Linked DNA regions of Homo sapiens: regions 1, 3, 4 and 5 are each reported to be linked to region 2. Evidence: microRNA targets listed by miRTarBase, many of them from high-throughput screens and not tested one by one. Region 2 holds a microRNA gene; each other region holds the end of a gene's coding sequence.

The links. Region 2 holds the annotated microRNA hsa-miR-548d-5p (AAAAGUAAUUGUGGUUUUUGCC, at 2,365-2,386, opposite strand). A microRNA usually pairs through its seed, bases 2 to 8, with sites in the 3' UTR of a target mRNA and lowers its output. Matches are read on the target gene's strand: a 7mer-m8 pairs with bases 2 to 8, a 7mer-A1 pairs with bases 2 to 7 and ends in A, and an 8mer does both.
Region 1: miRTarBase lists CAPZA1 as a target of hsa-miR-548d-5p. Seed matches in the 3' UTR shown: 7mer-m8 at 788-794 and 7mer-A1 at 1,270-1,276.
Region 3: miRTarBase lists THRAP3 as a target of hsa-miR-548d-5p. Seed matches in the 3' UTR shown: 7mer-m8 at 2,241-2,247.
Region 4: miRTarBase lists NEK7 as a target of hsa-miR-548d-5p. Seed matches in the 3' UTR shown: 7mer-m8 at 2,845-2,851.
Region 5: miRTarBase lists GIMAP4 as a target of hsa-miR-548d-5p. The part of its 3' UTR that is shown has no 7-base or 8-base seed match.

What each region holds. Positions count from the first base shown.
Region 1 is chr1:112,669,716-112,673,715 of GRCh38, forward strand. CAPZA1 (capping actin protein of muscle Z-line subunit alpha 1) reads left to right here. Exons shown (of 10, transcript NM_006135.3): 10 at 277-1,901. The coding sequence ends at 417. Among named protein-coding and RNA genes, the nearest start is that of MOV10, 2.9 kb to the right of the region's middle.
Region 2 is chr17:67,469,176-67,473,326 of GRCh38, forward strand. MIR548D2 (microRNA 548d-2) reads right to left here and starts at 2,410; the gene lies at 2,314-2,410. All of the region lies in intron 1 of PITPNC1 (phosphatidylinositol transfer protein cytoplasmic 1), which reads left to right. It overlaps MIR548AA2 (microRNA 548aa-2), which reads left to right and starts at 2,314; the gene lies at 2,314-2,410.
Region 3 is chr1:36,303,327-36,307,472 of GRCh38, reverse strand. THRAP3 (thyroid hormone receptor associated protein 3) reads right to left here. Exons shown (of 12, transcript NM_005119.4): 12 at 2,116-3,677. The coding sequence ends at 3,456. It overlaps SH3D21 (SH3 domain containing 21), which reads right to left and starts at 1,105. Exons shown (of 16, transcript NM_001162530.2): 1 at 1,049-1,105; 2 at 718-875; 3 at 568-631; 4 at 188-306. The coding sequence starts at 1,052. RefSeq lists enhancers at 205-254, 57-857 and silencers at 355-794, 1,015-1,064.
Region 4 is chr1:198,319,195-198,323,345 of GRCh38, reverse strand. NEK7 (NIMA related kinase 7) reads right to left here. Exons shown (of 10, transcript NM_133494.3): 10 at 926-3,934. The coding sequence ends at 3,824. Among named protein-coding and RNA genes, the nearest start is that of NEK7, 160 kb to the right of the region's middle.
Region 5 is chr7:150,572,482-150,576,632 of GRCh38, forward strand. It overlaps GIMAP4 (GTPase, IMAP family member 4), which reads left to right. Exons shown (of 3, transcript NM_018326.3): 3 at 1-1,472. The coding sequence ends at 579. Among named protein-coding and RNA genes, the nearest start is that of GIMAP4, 7.2 kb to the left of the region's middle.

The DNA of each region.
Region 1 (4,000 bases), not on the chromosome of region 2:
TTACTAAATGTGGGAGACTTTGCAGACCTTCCAAGTTGGCATTCTGCTTACAGTCAGGGTTTGAGGATTGCTTGGGACTGTAGCCCTCATTTTAGAAATAATATAGGTGAACTTCTTGACCTACTTCAGAGATTGGAGAGGAGCTCATTGAAAATAATATATCCTGTCTATCCTTCACAGGGGACTCAAGCATATCCATTGACTATAGCATTACTTTTCTGTTCACAACCAGCCCCATTTCTGTTCAAGCAACTCATCTTCAATTATCTATTGCAGACAGCAATTAGTGAAAACTATCAAACAATGTCAGATACCACATTCAAGGCCTTGCGCCGGCAGCTTCCAGTTACCCGCACCAAAATCGACTGGAACAAGATACTCAGCTACAAGATTGGCAAAGAAATGCAGAATGCTTAAAGGCTGAATGTAGGATTCTTCAGTATGTGGAAAGACAAGGATTCAACGTGTGGTCATATGATAAATAAGTGATTTATAAACAAGAGTGATATTTTGCTAGGGCTTTCAAAGTTAACCGGTTTTCTAGCCTCATGGAATACTGTTGAACCTATAGCGTTGTCTTGATTCTTTTGTGTTCTCTGCCTTGTAATTTTCTGTTACTGCTATATCTACGTGTAAATCTTTTTTTCTTTTTTTTTTTTTTTTTTTGGTTAATTCTGCCACATTTAATGTTGGTGAGAGAGTGATCTATCCTAATGACATTTTACTGTTTAAAAAAGTTTCCTAGCCATGAAGCCCTGCTACTGATTTAGACAAGGTATTATGGTCATTACTTTGTACCCCTATCCTTCCAAGCACTTCTGGTACTTCAGTCGTTTTTACTGATCCACCAACACCTAAAGAGGCTATGCTACAGTCTCTAGCTAAATGGAAGACACATTCATCCTTCTCCCTCTGACTGCTTTGATCATCATTTATTGCATCTCATAACTAATTTTCTAAAGTTTGGATTGGGACTTTTCAGGTCCTTTTTGGAGGGCAAAGGAAGTGCCAGCTTCTCTGGGGAACTTGTTTTTAAATCCAAAGACTTGAACCACATTCCCTGCACATGAACATGTTTGCTTTTATCCCTTCTCTCATTGTCTCCTTCCCATCTTAGTACCATTGTAGTTATAAACATCTGCATTTTTTAGAAGCATTTTACCCATTTATTTTTTTAAACATTCAAGAACTGCTGACGTACTGTGGATGTAGAGTATAAAACTTGAAAAATGCAGATGTTGAAGGAATAATAGGTATCTTGTGCTTTAATACTTTATGGCAGGATTGTACTATAAGCAAATGAATTAAACAGCTATGTAAATCATAAAGAAAAACTAAAAATGAACCAAAGTGAAAGGATAACTTCCAGGCAGTATCTTTCTATTGTAACCTGTTATTTAAGGAAATACTAGTGATTTCTTCTAAATAGGATGTAAAACTTCTTTCAAATTACTCTTCCTCAGTCCTGCCTGCCAAGAACTCAAGTGTAACTGTGATAAAATAACCTTTCCCAGGTATATTGGCAGGTATGTGTGTAATCTCAGAATACACAGGTGACATAGATATGATATGACAACTGGTAATGGTGGATTCATTTACATTGTTTACACTTCTATGACCAGGCCTTAAGGGAAGGTCAGTTTTTTAAAAAACCAAGTAGTGTCTTCCTACCTATCTCCAGATACATGTCAAAAAAAGAAAGGTGTTTGTGCTTCCGTTTTGTTTCTGCTCAGTAATATAGTCAAGCAAGTTTGTTCCAGGTGACCCATTGAGCTGTGTATGCATTTTTGTTTATTTCAATAAAATATATTTGTATTATTTGTCCTTCATACTATCCATCCATACCACACTATCTTCTGTATCAGGTAGTCTAATAGAAATATACCTGTTTTGTTCTAAAATTGTCTGAGTCTCTCCTTTTTGATTCATCGCTTCAGCCTTGGTTCTCAAGGTAAGATATTCAGCTGTATTTGATCTTATGTTGAGAATGTTTAGGGTTTCTAAAATTGGTTTCTACCTTCAACTATTTATAGACTCTGAATATCCACAGATTTGCAAAGAACAGCTTTTTAAAGCGTGAGCAATGTCTATGGATCATACTGCTCTTCACTCAAAGACTACCCATGTTTCAAAGGGAAAAATGTAGTTGTCTTCTGTACCTGTCACTCAGAAAGCAAGGCCCAAGTACAGTTGTAGTCACTAGGCAGAAGTAGAAATGAAAGAATCCCTGCCTTAAACTTGGTAATATTTCACATTGCGTTATCTTGAAATGCTGCTTTCCTCTCCTTAGCTGGCCTAGCTACAAACTTGTGGGAGAGGCTTTTATCCTGGTTCCCAAAAGAAAACCAGAGGGAGTTTTTATGCTTCAAGTACTCCATCCAAGGCCAGTTCAAATTCCCACCTTTTTGAGGAATATTTAGCTGCATTCCATTCTATTTGTAATGCAAATAGATTGAAACATTCTTGCTTTTAATTTATTAACTCTCTCATCCTGCCCCTGCTATCCCATTGATTCCTTAGCTTAGACTTTTTTAAAAAATTCTTAACCCCTTAACTATCTAAAGGCCTTGGTTACTTGTATAGTCGGGAGGAAGTCAACCCTCCTTAACCAAGTCTGCCAGAGACACTCCCTCTCCCCCTTCCGCCCCCTTCTTAACCTCCCTTAGCAGAATATTTGCTTGAATTGTATCTATTTTATCACCACAAGCTGCTGAAATCAGCCTGTTGTACGCTATGGCAAAGATTTCCCAGCCATCTGGAAAAGGGTTTTTTGTGAGGCTTCCCTCCTATATTTTGGTTTGAAATGACACTGCTGAAGACTTTTTTCATCTGAGCCTCAGTGGTTATCCCTCTATTGCTTGCCTAGTTCCAGTGCCTGTTCTCTTTTATAGTCTAAGACTTCGGTGCTGGACTCATCTAGGTTCATGGGATGCTTGGCAAACTTGGCATATTCTCTTCAAACTCAAAGAATGATAAATATTTGAATGCCAACTTGTGAATTTACAATTTTCTATAAAACTACCAAGTAAACCAAATGCTGGTGACCATTGTCTCGTTTTTCAGCTACCTACTATGTGAAAAATCAAAGGAAGATTGGTAAATATGAACAAAGCTGGATTGTCCTGTAGTTTAAGTTGAGCTAACTTAAATTTCTTCTTTGAACAGATAGGGTATATATAAATGCACAGAGTATATATAAGCTCTCTGAGCACAGAAACAAATCTCACATCTGACGGCCAGAGGTCACTCTCCTCACCATCTTGGTTTTGGTGGGGTTTAGCCAGCTTCTTTACTGCAGCCTGTTTTATCAGCAAGGTCTTTATGACATGTATCTTGTGCTGACCTCCTGTCTTATCCTGTGACTTAGAATGCCTAACCTCCTGGGAATGCAGTCCAATAGGTCTCAGTCTCATTTTACCCAGTCCCTGTTGAAGATGGAGTTGCTCTGATTCAAAGAGCTCTGACAATAACAATTAGAACCCCATGTGAAGTAGATTTTTCTGGATGAAATTGTTTAGAGAAGTTCCATTGTAAACAAAGCCACATAGCATCACACTTTTTACCCAAGGTTTTACTATACTGCAGACTTTTGTGTACGTTTTGAGAACATCCAAGACATAAACCTGACCAGAGAAGAAGGGAGATTGTATCCAAGAATAATAGGGATTTAGATTTGCTGGTCAGAATGGAGCCAGACATTCAGTTTGAGTACGGTTGATGGTACGTTTTTGAGATGGTAAGTAACAAGGCAATTTTTAAGAGTTCACCCTCTCTATTCTTCTGGAACCTCATCAGGACATTGAGGGAGAAAAAAGGTAAAATCTTTGGCTGCTTTTCTAGTTTTTTCTTCTACTTTGCATAATAAGTTTGTAAGATGTTTTCCTCTGCCCTATTTTACCCATCCCCGTAGCTTTGGTTCCCACTGACATTGCATTTCCTGTTGCTAAAGCCTGTTATTCCTGGCTTCATTTGGTTGTTGGCCTGAGAGAAGGTACCGGGT
Region 2 (4,151 bases):
TTTTCCCAGTCCCTGTAGTAGCCCCAGGATGGCTCAGAAACTGTCTGGGTTCCTGCTGTAGACACTGTGAGAACTTCCTTTCCAAGTGTAGCCAAGCACCCGCCCCACTGCTGCAGCCTGTGCCATCCTCCCCCTTCTCTGCACACATTGCATATCCCTGTGGTCTCCGTTTTGAGCTCAGAGTGTGGGCCTCCAACCCTCAGCACCGTATCACTCCGTAGCTTATTAGAAATGCAGAATCTGCAGCCCCCGCCCAGCTTGCTGAATCAGCCTCTGTGTTTTAACAAGATCCCCGGGATCTGTCTGCCTGTTGACAAGGGAGAAGCCTGGTCTCGGTTACCTCCTCCTCAGCGTCCTGAGCCTGGCTGGATCGCCAGCACACTCAGACCAGCGGCCCCAGGCTCTTGTGACAGCAGCCGTCAGACCCGTGGGAGTTCAGGTGCGGGTCATCAGGGCCCTGCTGGCTACTCCACCTCTCTGGGTCCCTCAGCTCAGAGATTCCACTTGAGTGTAGAGAGAATTGTTCCCCTCTGCTCTGGTGCCCTCTTTGCACTAATGTTTAGGGACCTAGAAAGGGCATCAGGAAATAAGACAGAACAAAAGCCACCAAGAGGAAGAAGGAAATTCAAGTGCCATAGCTATAGAGAGGCTCAGGAGGATAAAAACAAAGCAATAGCAGGGGCTGAGAGATTTTTTAAAAATCAGCTTTACTGTGATATATAATATATATATGTGTGTGTATATGTATATATATAATTTTTTTTTGAGACAGAATCTTGTTTTGTCATCCAGGCTGGAGTGCAGTTGTGCAATCTCAGCTCACTGTAACCTCCGCCTCCTGGGTTCAAGCGATTCTCCTGCCTCAGCCTCCCAAGTAGCCAGGATTATAGGCACACACCACCACACTTGGCTAATTTATGTATTTTTAGTAGAGATGGGGTTTCACCATGTCGGCCAGGCTGTTTTCAAGCTCCTGACCTCGAGTGATCTGCCCACTTTGGCCTCCCAAAATGCTGGGATTACAGGCATGAGCCACCACACCTGGCCATATTGTGATATAGCTAACATAGAATAGAACTCACTTTAAGTGTACAGCTTGATGAGTTTTAACATATATATACACACACTGTAGTCATGTAACCACTGCCCCATCAAGATACAGAACATTTCATCACCCCTAGAACTTCCCTTGTGACTTTTAGCTGTCAATTACTTCTCTCTACCCCCCACATTCCCCACTCCTGTTCCTAACAAGCACTGATCTGCTTTTGCACTAAAGTCTTGCCTTTCTTAAAGTTTCCTATAGATGCAGTCATACAGATGTAGTCTCTTGTGTCTCACTTCTTTTGCTCAACACAATGTTTTTGAAATTCATCCATATTCCCCGTCCGGGAGGGAGGTGGGGGGGGTCAGCCCCCCTGCCCGGCCAGCCGCCCCGTCCGGGAGGTGAGGGGCACCTCTGCCCGGCCGCCCCTACTGGGAAGTGAGGAGCCCCTCTGCCCGGCCACCACCCCGTCTGGGAGGTGTACCCAACAGCTCATTGAGAACAGGCCAGGATGACAATGGCGGCTTTGTGGAATAGAAAGGCGGGAAAGGTGGGGAAAAGATTGAGAAATCGGATGGTTGCCGTGTCTGTGTAGAAAGAAGTAGACATGGGAGACTTTTCATTTTGTTCTGCACTAAGAAAAATTCCTCTGCCTTGGGATCCTGTTGATCTGTGACCTTACCCCCAACCCTGTGCTCTCTGAAACATGTGCTGTGTCCACTCAGGGTTAAATGGATTAAGGGCGGTGCAAGATGTGCTTTGTTAAACAGATGCTTGAAGGCAGCATGCTCGTTAAGAGTCATCACCAATCCCTAATCTCAAGTAATCAGGGACACAAACACTGCGGAAGGCCGCAGGGTCCTCTGCCTAGGAAAACCAGAGACCTTTGTTCACTTGTTTATCTGCTGACCTTCCCTCCACTATTGTCCCATGACCCTGCCAAATCCCCCTCTGTGAGAAACACCCAAGAATTATCAATAAAAAAATAAATTAAAAAAAAAATGTAAAAAAAAAAAATGTAAAAAAAAAAAAAAAAGAAATTCATCCATATTATTGGATGTATCAATAGTTTGTTCCTTTTTATTGCATAGTAGCATTCCCCTGAATGGATATACCACAGTCTGTTTATTCATTTACCAGTTGATGGACATTTGGGTTACTTCCAGTTTTGGATGATTTTGAGTAAAGTTGCAATGAACATTCACATACAAGTCCTTGTGTGGACCTACGTCTTCATTTGAGAGATTTTTTTCCTTTTAAACTTTTTATTTTATTAGGTTGGTGCAAAAGAAACTGTGGTTTTTGCCATTACTTTCAATGGCAAAAACCACAATTACTTTTGCACCAACCTAAATCTTCCCTCTCTCTGGATTTGCAATTATTCTGTAAATCTAAAGTTAACTTTAGCTAAATCAGGTTGACATCATATACCCCCTAAAGTTAACTTTAGATTTACAGAAGAGTTGCAAATCCAGAGAACCCCCCGTAGTCTTCATCCACCTTCCCCCAATGTTAATATCGTACTAATTATGATACATTTATCAAAACTCAAAAATTAACATGGGCACAGTTGTATTAACTAAACTCCCGACTTTCTTCAGATTTCACCAGTTTTTTCCACTAATGTCCTTTTTCTGTTCCAGGATTTAATCAGGATATAATGTTGCACTTAATTATTATATCATAATAGTCACTTTCAATCTATGTCAATTTCTCTGTCTCTCCTTGTTTTTTTATGACTTTGACATTTATGAAGTGGGCTGGTCAAGTATTTTGTAGGATGTCCCTCAATCTGGATTTGTCTGATGTTTTCTGATCATTAGACTGCAGTTGGGGTTTGGGGAAAGAATACCCCAGAGGTGAAATGGCCTTCTCATCACATAATATTAGGGGGCACATGATATCTACCTGATTGCTCACTGGTGAAGTTAACCTTGATCACTTGGTTAAGGCGTTGTCTACCAGAGTTACCCACCGTAAGCTGCTAATTTCCCTTTCCATACTCTGTTCCAGGGGTGTCCAATCTTTTGGCTGCCCTGGGACACATTGGAAGAAGAATTGTCTTGGGCAACACATAAAATACATCATTAACACTATGACAGCTGTTGAGCTAAAAAAAAAAAAAAAAAAAAAAAAAAAAAAAAGGACCGGGTGCGGTGGCTCACACCTGTAATCCCAACACTTTGGGAGGCCGAGGCGGGTGGGTCACGAGGTCAGGAGATCGAGACCATCCTGGCTAACACAGTGAAACCCCATCTCTACTAAAAATAGAAAAAATTAGCCGGGCGTGGTGGTGGGCGCCTGTAGTCCCAGCTACTCAGGAGGCTGAGGCAGGAGAATGGTGTGAATCCAGGAGGAGGAGTTTGCAGTAAGCCGAGATTGCACCACTGCACTCCAGCCTGGGTGACAGAGGGAAACTCTGTCTCAAAAGAAAAAAAAAAAAAAAGGTCTGTGCATAAATATCATAATGTTTTAAGAAAGTTTATGAATTTGTGTTGGGCCACATTCAAAGCTGTCCTGGGCCACGGGTTGGACAAGCTTACCGTCTATTCATTAGAAGTGAGTCACTCAGGGGAGGGAGATTAGGCCCTGCCTCCTACAGGGAGGGGTTTCAAAGAATTTGTGGACATATGCTAAAACCAGCACCATAATTAATGTGGTATTTTTTTTTTTTTGACGGAGTCTTGCTCTGTAGCCCAGGCTGGAGTGCAGTGGCCTGATCTCGGCTCACTGCAAGCTCTGCCTCTCAGGTTCATGCCATTCTCCTGCCTCAGCCTCCTGAGTAGCTGGGACTACAGGTGCGCACCACCATGCCCAACTAATTTTTTTGTATTTTTAGTAGAGAAGGGGTTTCACCATGTTAGCCAGGATGGTCGCGATCTCCTGACCTCGTGATCCACCCGCCTTGGCCTCCCAAAATGCTGGGAATACAGGTGTGAGCCACCGTGCCCGGCCAATTAATGTATTTTTATTATTTTAAAAGTTATTCTTATTTTTAGAGATAGAGTCTCACTATGTTGCCCATGCTGGTCTTGAACTCCTGGGCTCAAGCTGTCTACCCACCTCGGCCTCCTAAGTGCTGGGATTATAGGCGTGAGCCACTTTA
Region 3 (4,146 bases), not on the chromosome of region 2:
AGTCCCTAGGATAATCTGCCACCCTTGGTTCTGCCCAAGCGCCCCTTCCTCCCTCCTTCCCTCCCGCGCTTCCCCGTATCTGCACCGTCGCCATTCCCACCGTCCACACCCTCACTTCCCACCCCGCTCACTAGGGAGGCGCGTTCCATCATCCTCCCCCAAACGGTCCCATCACCTCACCCCTCACCTCCTTTATCATTTCCACGATCTCCCCAGCTTGCAGCTTCAGCTCGTCCGCCTGCTCTGGGCTGTAGCTGAAGTTCACTTTGCACCATCTTTGGGGCCTCGGGTGTTTGGCAGGATGACCTAGCACCGGACAAGCGCGGCTGAGCTCCAGTCGGACGCCCCAGTCAGAGGAGCTGGGGGAAGCGCAAGGCGCGCACGTAGCCTTTGGTCCCTCCAGCCCCGCCCCAGGGCGGAGCATTGCACTCGAGAACCAATCACAGACCGCAGGGCGGCCCCGAGGTCCCGCCCAGAGCCGCGCCCGTCACTAAGAGCCGGAGACGCCGGGGTCGCACTGGCTCCGTGCACCCGCCCACCGGCGCCCGTCCCCGCCCTTGCGCTCACCTCGGCGGCGCGCACAGCGCGGCCTCCGCGCCTCTCCGGAGCCCCGCAGGGTCTCTGGGATCTCCTGGGAATCAGGGCACGGGGAAGGCGCTCTCAGCTCCCGGGGGGCGCGCGCTGAGACCCCACAGCCCGCCCCTGGCTCGGCCTCACCTGCACCAGGCGCTCGGGGAAGAGGCCATAGCGGCCCCCAAACTCTCCGCGAAGCCAGCCCCGCGCGGGCACCCAGCGCACCTGCCGGACCACGTCCCCGGGCGCCAGACTCAGCTCGTCCTCCTTCTGCGCGCGGTATCCGGCCAGGACGAGGACTTCTGCGGGCGGAAGACGGGGCCGGCGTGCGGCTCAGAAAGGCCCAGCCGGGCAGCCTGGCTAGGGCGGGCGTGTCCCCAAGCACCGTAGAGGGCAGCGGGGGTCGGGGGGTGGTGTGGGCTCTTGCTATGTCCACGGTTGCAGAGAGAGGCCACCTCAAAGCCTCCGCACTTACCCATGGTTTCCGGGGCGCCCTCCAGAGCCTGGCAGCTCCCTCTGACGGCCGAGTACTGGGCCCGCGCAGGGTGCGACCTGAGGCAAGACAGTAGGGTAAAGGAGGCGTAGCCGCCAGCCGATAGGTCGGGCCAGGTGCTGGGAGTGGGTGTGGAGAGGGGGCGGCCCGGCTCAGCAGGTCCGGCCCCCAACCCCGGGGTGAGGAGGACTCCAGGGTCTCTGGCCTGTGCAGCGGTCACAGCTCCGTCACAGGTTCTTCCGCCCACCTAAATTTTAGGCCAGCCGCCTCTCCCTTTCCCTCAGCTTTTGCCCGGAGGCTCCCAGCTACAATTTGCACAGAGCCTTTCCAGGCCCACCCTTCCCCAGCTCACAAGCTTTTGGCTTGAGGGGAAAAGGTGGGGAGAGGCACATACCAGGGTGGGGCCCCCCAGCAAGTAGCAACCGCTCTAAACCGGCCTTGAGTGAATGAAGTGGCTGCCCTTGTACCAGCAATAGCTTTGAGTGGACACTTCCAGTCTGCTTTCCTTCAAGGCGTACTCCTCTCTGGCCCCGTACCCACTCTCTACCCCCATATAGGAAGGACACAGCAAAGACCCCTGCTTTGGGGCCAGAGGTCTAGTTTGGTTTCAGAAAACACCTCCAGGTTTTCCCTGGGAGTTAGGCCGGGAGAATGAATTTTACCAGCTTCCAAGATTTCTGCTCACAGTTGAGTCCCCAGCCGGCAGGAGTCTGAAGGTTAGGGCCCACCCTATGGCCAGTCCATGTGGGATAGGCTCTTTCAGGTAGAAGGCTGAGCCTACTAACCACATCCCTTGATCCCTGCCCCACCACCATGATGAAGGAAGCCAAAGTCCTTGCCTATGACACCAGTGGAAAAAATCTGTTTCTCCTGGGGTGTCCAAGGTACACAATGCTCCTCCCAGGAAGGACTGTGTCTGTCTGGGACTCCAGCAGCCTGCGCAAGGCCCCACAGGCCCTTTGTCTTTCAGGTTTTCTGAAACTGCCGTGGGAAGTTATCTACCACCCTCAACACACACACACACTCAGGATGACAATGAACAGAACCCGTTTACATCTGCCACTTCATTTATTTTATTTGCAGGAGGAGTTGAAACAAATTTTAAGGGAGATTTTCATTTTCCCCCTAAACATGAATCATTCAAGTAAAACCAACTTAACTATAGAAATGTAGCAAAGTAAGGGGAAAGCAGCACAACAACGCAAGAGGCAAAGGCTGGGGGGGAGAGGTGGGTGCAGTCCGCATATAACATATGCATAAATGCCTTATGATTCACCTGCTCAGGACCGCCTCCCCAGAAGGCAAGCACAAGGACCCATTTTAAGAGGATGTTTCCCCCCAAACATCTGAGAATGCTTCAACTTAAACAGCTTAAGGTTAAAAAGACAAAGAAAAAAAAAAAGAAACCCAAAAAAACCCCTGAACCACCCAGCCATAACCACCTTCCTTAATCGATCATAGGAGTTTCTTTTCATTTTATAAAAAGATTAATAAAAAATATTGAAAAAATTTTCTCATATTTGTAAAGATAATAGAATTCATAAGTTTCTTAGAAAACAGACCAGACACTGCCCTCCAGTTTCCACCCCGTTGCTGGGAGGATCAGCAGGACTAGAAAGTTTGGGATACTGGAGCTGCTGGTGGAGAACGGGGAAGTCCAGCCCAGAAGAAATCAGGAAATAGGGCTCAGGGGCACGTGAGGTGTGGTAAGGAGCAACTCCACGTGATACATGGCTGCGCAGAAAAGGGGAACACAAGGTGGTCGGAAAGGCCTTAAACTCCTCCTTGACATACAAAACCGGTTTTTACAAAGATCCAAGCAGTTTGGTCCCAAACTGAGGTGAACACTTCAAAGTTTATTCACATGCTTTTGTTTTCTCTTTCAAGAATCAAAGTTTCCCAAATTAAATGTTTCTAATATTACTACATATGCCTAAAAAAAGAAAAAAAAAAAAAAAAAGGAGGGGGCTTTTAAAATCAGGACAGGGGAAAAGAGATCGAAAATCATCAAATTAGTCATCTTAGCTCCAAATGAAATGAAATTAGAACAAAACTGTTGGTTTCTAATAGGAAACAAAAATCCAAGCATCGCTCTCCCGCCCTACCCCTGCCCCCACCCCACACACCAACAAATGAGAAAAACAGCTAAAGCCCAATGCGTTGTATTCTGCTCAAAAGCTGGGCCTGACCCCTGGGCCCCATGGCCAGCCTCCTCTGTCCAGTGGGAGACAGCGCCAGGGATGCCTCTCGCGGTAGTACAATCTGTGCGGCTGGTGGGGGGTGGGGGTAGGATTTTCAGAATCTTCTTGAGGTTCCTCTGTTAAGCTCCTCACCAGCCATCTTCCCAGCGCCTCTCTCCCCTGGGCAGGAATCCCGTCAAGGGTGGCCCCTACTCGGTTGTGGGCTGTATATTGTCCTTCTCTTCTCGGTTCTCTGTCCCACTCTCGTCGTCTTCAATCTCCCCTTCCTCCCCACTGAACTTGTCATGGGCCCACTTGGGGCTGGTACTTGATTTCCGGAACATGAACCGGCCCCGACCCCGAGGAAAGGCTCCTCGGCCCCGGCCCCGGCTCACCCACTTGTCACTGCCTTCGCCTTCACGGTCATCATGCTGAGGGGAAAGAAAATTGCCATCAGTGCCAGAGTGAACAAGATGTGGCCAGAGCTCTCTTCTCTGCACGCACCCAAATGTGCCTTTCCCAAAAGAACCTGTGCCCTAACCCAGCCTTTTGATCCTTTTCTGCACTTCTCCCTGTCCCCCACTCCAAAAATGCCAGTGGTTCAGATCCATGAGAATATCAGTTGGGTGATTTAGGAATTTTAAGGTAACAGCTTGGGCATTGTAACGATGATTGACAATGATGATGATTCACTGAGCAAGAACCCTTAATAGTTTAAAGAAAATAAAAACGTCACTGAGCACTGAAGTAAGACATTTATGTACTATCTCATTTAATTCTCCTATCTACCCTATCATTATCACCTCCCACTCTGCAAACGTGCTTAAAGCTTAGGAACTTTAAGCAACTCCATATGATTTAGTATATCCTCTCTCAAAGGGTGGGTTTGAGAAAGCCAAT
Region 4 (4,151 bases), not on the chromosome of region 2:
ATCATTCTGATTTTAAAAAGTAATTGCATCAATTTAATGGTACTTACAGCTGTACCAATTAATATATTTAAGCATATATGCCTAAAAACAAGTATACTTTTTTGAAATAAAAATTCATAACTAGCCCCACTGTCTTGTGACTAAAATTATTACAAAATGGGTCATTCTTCATGACGGTATATTTGGAATATAATTCTGATGTGTAAGGTATATCCACTCACTGTACCAACAGTCTGGTAGGTTTCATCCCGCTAAGATCTTTCAGACTCAGTTTTCAGGTATAGCAGTAACCTTCATTTATTATGTGAAGATAACACTCAACATAAACCATCTGTAACATTCTTAGCAGCCCATTACAATGACAGGAATTGAATCTGTCATGTAAATTTTAGACTCTAAAGCAAGCTTGTCCAACCCACAGCCCATGAGCCGCATGCGGCCCAGAATGGCTTTGAATGCAGTACAATACAAATTTGTAAACTTTTAAAAAACATTATGAGATTTTTTTTTGCTATTTTTTCTTTAGTTCATCAGCTATTGTTAGTCTTAGCACATTTTATGTGTGGCCCAAGACAATTCTTCTTCCAATGTGGCCCAGGGAAGCCAAAAGATTGGACACCCCTGCTCTAAAGATTCAAAGCAGTAAGATTAATATTCCTTTTTTTTTTTTTTTACCTTTTAGAAAACGTTTCTCATTCAAAAACAGAAAATGATGTCCTGAAGATGTCCTTAGTTTAATGCATGTTGATAAAACTACTTTTTAGGATTTGTGTAATCTCTGTTATCACCCTTGTCTATTCCAATTCTTAAGCTTCTCCAAAATGGCAAAGTTATGAAAATGCGTAAGAACTGTTTCTGTACATTAAGTATTAAGTAAAATAAAAAATGGAAGACTTTAGGGGAAAAAATCATAGATACCCAGACATTTTACTGTATTCATTTTTATTTTTATATTTTTGTTTATATTAGGATATTATACAATTTTCAAAGCTAATAACAGAAATCTTTTTGTATGTATATTTAAAGCATAACAAAATAAAAGTATTTCACAAAAGATGTCCATATTACAGTACTATTGAAATATGAGGCACAGGGTAAGTATGCATTTGTGGGTTAAAAACATAATACATTCATTTTAAAGAATAAACATTTAATGTGAGTAACATTTTGGTTAAAATAAATATCATAGTAAATGTTAACAGCAACACCTGAAGTATATGGATACAAGAAAGGTGTTTTGTAATAGATACTATGTTGAATGGTAAAGCATTCATGAAATGGCTGTAATATCTTACTAAATTTACAATCATTGCACATTGTTGAGCACTTTATTTATATAGAGATACCCTTCATCCACCATTCCTAAACCTTACCATACAAAACAAAGTTACTCCATATTTTCACCTGGGTAACTGGTACCAATGTCTAAATAAGGTTTAGAATAGATATAGCTTTCATTTTACTGCTCCTCAAATCAATTCAAAAGTTTAACTTAATCAATATAAAATTTACTTATGAACACATATAAAGAACATTTTATAGGTGACTATATAAATTAGAGCTTCAAATCATCTTCATAGTTCTTTGAAATTATTCCATTCAAAATTAAAATTTGATTTTTACACAGTGGTTTCTTCAGGAAAAATATGAACATTTAGATTTAAAAAGATACAATATTCGAAGCAAAAAGTTTCCACATATAGAAATAATGAATTTCCCTGATCATTAAATTCTTCCCAGCTATTTCCTTCTAGCAGATATATTCACTGAGAAGAAAAGCTTTAATCTTTACTTAAAAGTTACTTTGAGGGGTCAAGCTAATGAATTTTAGATCTATGTATTCTTAAAGATTGCAAGAAAAAAAAGAGAGTATCTGTTCCAACCAGAGAACATTTCATCTCAATTATATTACATTAAAATGAACATGACATTAATGGTCAATAAGAATAATTCTTCTCATACTTCTAGGAATATATCTATGGATGCTCAGTATAAATGTTAAAAGTCATTAAGAGTGTGAGAAAAAAAATGCATCTAGCCCTCAGGAAAAACAAACAAAACAGGTTTCCTTTACCTATTCCAAAATAAAATTACCCTTCAGAAACCATACATAACTGATTAGATTTCAGAAAACAAGGGTTCAGACTTTTTGCCCTTTATACATTTTTTAAGTTTACAAATGCTTGAAAGCATTCAAATGAGTGTAAGAAAAACACATATGAAAAACAAAACCAGCAGTTACATCGGCTAAAGGGAAGTGTTCTTTGAACATGAGGTTTTCACGTTGGCAGGATAATTCATCCAAGGTTGTAAGATGGCACAGAGTCCTTTAACAGTGACTTCCTCTTGGCCTTCAGGCTTCACAATTCTGTGAGAAACTGGTCGCCACTAATACGAAAGCATTCAGGGAAAACACATCTGCACAACAGCATTTACGAAATTCTGCCCATTTCCTTAAGCTACACGAAGTGTTACCATCTCAGTCATCTTCATGAACAAATACAGTACTTTACTCAAAAGCTTCTCAATAGAAATGTTAATCTCATAACAGTTCTGGCTGTAGTCATGGCCAGTTTTCATTTTATTAAGCATATTCTAGAATTACAACCTTGTCAAATAAATTGTAACTGTATCAACATTCACAGGTACAGTATAACACACATCCTTTCTTCCTCTTTAACAAGACCAAACATATGCATACAGAGTGGCCCAAATTTTAAAAAGTTTAAAAAAAGTTTTCAATCCAGGAAAAGTATTGGTATACCAAATATCTTTTAAAAGGGTATTATACTCTCAGAAAGTATGAAACATTAATGGATAAAATGCACATACAATATAAATAAGAAAGTAACTTGAAGAATAATATAAAAAAATTTCTGAAGGGGACCGATCAGAACTTCAATAAAACTTATGAATAAAAACTTAGGCTTATATTATAGTGTACAATTATGAGTTAAAATGCACTTAAATTTATAAAGAAATTGAAATATAGTACTGCAAGGTTATTCAAAGAATATTTTTCAAATGTACAAACAACAATAAAAACACACAAAAAAAGCCTTGGGCAATGTGCAACTTTAAAAATTATTATCACACCAGCTAAACAAATCCTTAACCACTTTTTAAATGGATTCATTTATACCATTTCAATGCAAAGAGAATATCAAAAATATTAAAACAAAACAAAAAACTCTTCAGTGTCTGACTCACATTTTGTCCCCAAATCTTCACATTTAATAGTTACATTTTGAATGTATAAGCTAAGAGTTCTAAATGTTTCTCAAATAGTTTGTGTCTACATTTATCATAAGAATCATATTTGAAAACTACTCTGCTAAGAACTAAAACTAGTACTTCAAACGTTTAAAAATAAAATCTTCACAAAAGTTCACAATTGTGTTCATCTCAATGTCCATAAATTACTAAAAAAGAAACAAGTCACATGTTCAGATACTTTTTCTCAGGTATGAGTCTATTCTGATGTGTGCCAAGCTGCACCTTCAATATTTGGCACTGACAGTCTATCTAAACACAATTTATCAGCAGAAAACTGTAAGAAATTCTATAAACCTTTAGCCATTCAAAACCATCATGTTTCATTTTCTCTCCTAACATGCAATTCAGTTATTCCAAAGTCATTTGGGGGTTGCAAGGAGGTGATTTAGGTGACTGGTACAAAATGAAGCTTATATGAAAACTGGTTAAGGATTCAAAGCACACTAGCTCTGAAATATTAATCTTAACACCAGACATAAATGGGGAGGTATGACTTGCACAAAATACTTTCAATTACTTTGGTTACACTCTTCATGATCTTGCATGTTTAGCTGCTTGCAGTGCATGCATGCATCCTCTTTGCTACGTCATAAACATAGGTGACGTCTGGTCGCTTCTCTGGATCTGGGTTGATGCACATATTAACTAACTGTCGGAGCTGTGAAGAAAGAAAAACAATAAAACCTGATTAAGACAACTATTTTTGGTTAGTTTACTGAGAGGAAGAAATTATGAATAGCTATAGATTTTACAAGGAAAGTACATTTTCTGACTAAACATTCACTGTACTAGAAATATATATAAGACTGCTGCCAATGATCTTACAATAAGTTAAATGTTCTATGAAGTGCATTGAATGGACAGTATTAATGTCA
Region 5 (4,151 bases), not on the chromosome of region 2:
CTGAAAATGTTTGGAGAGAGGGCTAGAAGTTTCATGATTCTCATATTCACCCGGAAAGATGACTTAGGTGACACCAATTTGCATGACTACTTAAGGGAAGCTCCAGAAGACATTCAAGACTTGATGGACATTTTCGGTGACCGCTACTGTGCGTTAAACAACAAGGCAACAGGCGCTGAGCAGGAGGCCCAGAGGGCACAGTTGCTGGGCCTGATCCAGCGCGTGGTGAGGGAGAACAAGGAAGGCTGCTACACTAATAGGATGTACCAAAGGGCGGAGGAGGAGATCCAGAAGCAAACACAAGCAATGCAAGAACTCCACAGAGTGGAGCTGGAGAGAGAGAAAGCGCGGATAAGAGAGGAGTATGAAGAGAAAATCAGAAAGCTGGAAGATAAAGTGGAGCAGGAAAAGAGAAAGAAGCAAATGGAGAAGAAACTAGCAGAACAGGAGGCTCACTATGCTGTAAGGCAGCAAAGGGCAAGAACGGAAGTGGAGAGTAAGGATGGGATACTTGAATTAATCATGACAGCGTTACAGATTGCTTCCTTTATTTTGTTACGTCTGTTCGCGGAAGATTAAACTTAATGAAAATCTGTTTGTATTTTCTGCATATTCTCTGGCAACCTTGCCCCATACTTACTTATTTAGCATAGTCGAGTGCTCTAGTTTCTGTCTCTCAGGCACTCGTAACTAAGGACCACCATTGGCCATTGGTAGATGTTTGATTGACTTAACAAGAGAGGGACAAATTTTCAATTTGTGAAACTCCAAAGCAGAAAGTATTGGTGCTTGCTACCTTGTGAATTCTTCCTTAGACATGCAGAGAAAATGTATGCAAGAGACCAAAAAGATGGCTCCAAGCTATGTCATGTTACCTGTAATAAAATCTTTTCTTCTAGATTCTTTCTATGTTGGCAGATAATCTCCCCTTGTAGCTTCCACTCACTTATTCTTGCATTCAGAGTCACAATGATCATCTTACCCATGTGGTTTTTGAGAAAGAAAGATCAATTCTTTGTTTGCAGTAGGTAATCTTAGAGATGGAGATGATTGTAGAATTATTCCTAGATGAGTGTCAATTTATTTAATTCCATTGTCATATAAGGAGTCAAATTGTTTCTTATCATTTGTTCATTGAAGAACAGAGACCTGTCTGGAAAATCGATCTCTACAAATTCAATTAAATAATGATCCCCAAATGCTGAAAAAGTGAAATACAGCAATTCAACAGATAATAGAGCAATGTTTAGTATATTCAGCTGTATCTGTAGAAACTCTTTGACGAACCTCAATTTAACCAATTTGATGAATACCCAGTTCTCTTCTTTTCTAGAGAAAGATAGTTGCAACCTCACCTCCCTCACTCAACACTTTGAATACTTATTGTTTGGCAGGTCATCCACACACTTCTGCCCCCACTGCATTGAATTTTTTGCTTATGTTGTTTATAATAAAACTTTTCAATTATCTCATATTTGTGCAGAATTGGAACCTGTTTTGTCTTGGAAAATACTACTGCTACTTCTAATAATACAGGGATGAATTTCACTTTATGGTAAGAGTTCAAGATGATTTTGGAGCTAGACTTTGTCTACCCTCATGACATCTCCCCTTCCCCCTTTCCCTAGAAGATTTGAGCCACAATCTCAACCCATTTATCAGCCAAAGACCACAACTTCCTTGGATCTTCATTATGTGCTGATGGAAATTATGAGTAACCAAGGTTTCTGAGACCTGTGTAGTTTTGTTGGTGCAAAAATTCCCTTTACTATAGAGATAGCGATAGTTGAAGTTCCTATCCCTTTTCTACTTTTCTACTGGGCTCTCCTCACCTAATAATTTCTAGAAATCCTGAAAGCGTGTTTTCATGTTCTACCAGTATGTCCTAGAGGTCACATGTGATTATGCCAACATTCCATGTTCTGCCATCTTGAAATTGGCTTCTCCATGCCCTAAATCATTTTGCCCAAAATAGGATATACATTTCCTTTTTTTTAAATTTTATTATTATTATACTTTAAGTTTTAGGGTACATGTGCACAATGTGCAGGTTTGTTACATATGTATGCATGTGCCATGCTGGTGTGCTGCACCCATTAACTTGTCATTTAGCATTAGGTATATCGCCTAATGCTATCCCTCACCCCTCCCCCCACCCCACAACAAGCCCCGGTGTGTGATGTTCCCCACCCTGTGTCCATGTGTTCTCATTGTTCAATTCCCACCTATGAGTGAGAATATGGGGTGTTTGGTTTTTTGTCCTTGCAATAGTTTGCTGAGAATGATGGTTTCCAGTTTCATCCATGTCCCTACAAAGGACATGAACTCATCATTTTTATGGCTGCATAGTATTCCATGGTGTATATGTGCCACATTTTCTTAATCCAGTCTATCGTTGTTGGACATTTGGGTTGGTTCCAAGTCTTTGCTATTGTGAACAGTGCTGCAATAAACATACGTGTGCATGTGTCTTTATAGCAGCATGATTTATAATCCTTTGGGTATATACCTAGTAATGGGCTGGCTGGGTCAAATAGTATTTCTAGTTCAAGATCCCTGAGGAATCGCCACATTGACTTCCACGATGGTTGAACTAGTTTACAGTCCCACCAACAGTGTAAAAGTGTTCCTATTTCTCCACATCCTCTCCAGCACCTGTTGTTTCCTGACTTTTTAATGATCGCCATTCTAACTGGTGTGAGATGGTATCTCATTGTGGTTTTGATTTGCATTTCTCTGATGGCCACTGATGATGAGCATTTTTTCACGTGTTTTTTGGCTGCATAAACGTCTTCCTTTGAGAATTGTCTGTTCATATCCTTTGCCCACTTTTTGATGGGTTTGTTTTTTTCTTGTAAATTTGTTTGAGTTCATTGTAGATTTTGGATATTAGCCCTTTGTCAGATGAGTAGGTTGCAAAGATTTTCCCCCATTTTGTAGGTTGCCTGCTCACTCTGATGGTAGTTTCTTTTGCTGTGCAGAAGTTCTTTAGTTTAATTAGATCCCATTTGTAAATTTTGACTTTTGTTGCCATTGCTTTTGGTATTTTAAACATGAAGTCCTTGACCATGACTATGTCCTGAATGGTATTGCCTAAGTTTTCTTCTAGGGTTTTTATGGTTTTAGGTCTAACATGTAAGTCTTTAATCCATCTTGAATTAATTTTTGTATCAGGTGTAAGGAAAGGATCCAGTTTCAGCTTTCTATTTATGGCTAGCCAGTATTCCCAGCACCATTTATTAAATAGGGAATCATTTCCCCATTGCTTGTTTTTGTCAGGTTTGTCAAAGATCAGATGGTTGTAGATATGCAGCATTATTTCTGAGGGCTCTGTTCTGTTCCATCGATCTATATCTCTGTTTTGGTACCACTACCATGCTGTTTTGGTTACTGTAGCCTTGTAGTATAGTTTGAAGTCAGGTAACATTATGCCTCCAGCTTTGTTCTTTTGGCTGAGGATTGACTTGGTGATGCAGACTCTTTTTTGGTTCCGTATGAAGTTTAAAGTAGTTTTTTCCAATTCTGTGAAGAAAGTCATTGGTAGCTTGATGGGGATGGCATTAAATCTATAAATTACCTTGGGCAGTATGGCCATTTTCACGATATTGATTCTTCCTACCCATGAGCATGGAATGTTCTTCCATATCTTTGTGTCATCTTTTATTTCATTGAGCAGTGATTTGTAGTTCTCCTTCAAGAGGTCCTTCACATCCCTTGTAAGTCGTATTCCTAGGTATTTTATTCTCTTTGAAGCAATTGTGAATGGGAGTTCACTCATGATTTGGCTCTCTGTCTGTTATTGGTGTATAAGAATGCTTGTGATTTTTGCTCATTGATTTGGTATCCTGAGACTTTGCTGAAGTTGCCTATCAGCTTAAGGAGATTTTGGGCTGAGACGATGGGGTTTTCCAGATATACAATCATGTCATCTGCAAACAGGGACAATTTGACTTCCTCTTTTCCTAACTGAATACCCTTTATTTCCGTCTCCTGCCTGATTGCCCTGGCCAGAACTTCTAACACTATGTTGAATAGGAGTGGTGAGAGAGGGCATCCCTGCCTTGTGCCAGTTTTCAAAGGGAATGCTTCCAGTTTTTGTCCATTCAGTATGATATTGGCTGTGGGTTTGTCATAGATAGCTCTTATTACTT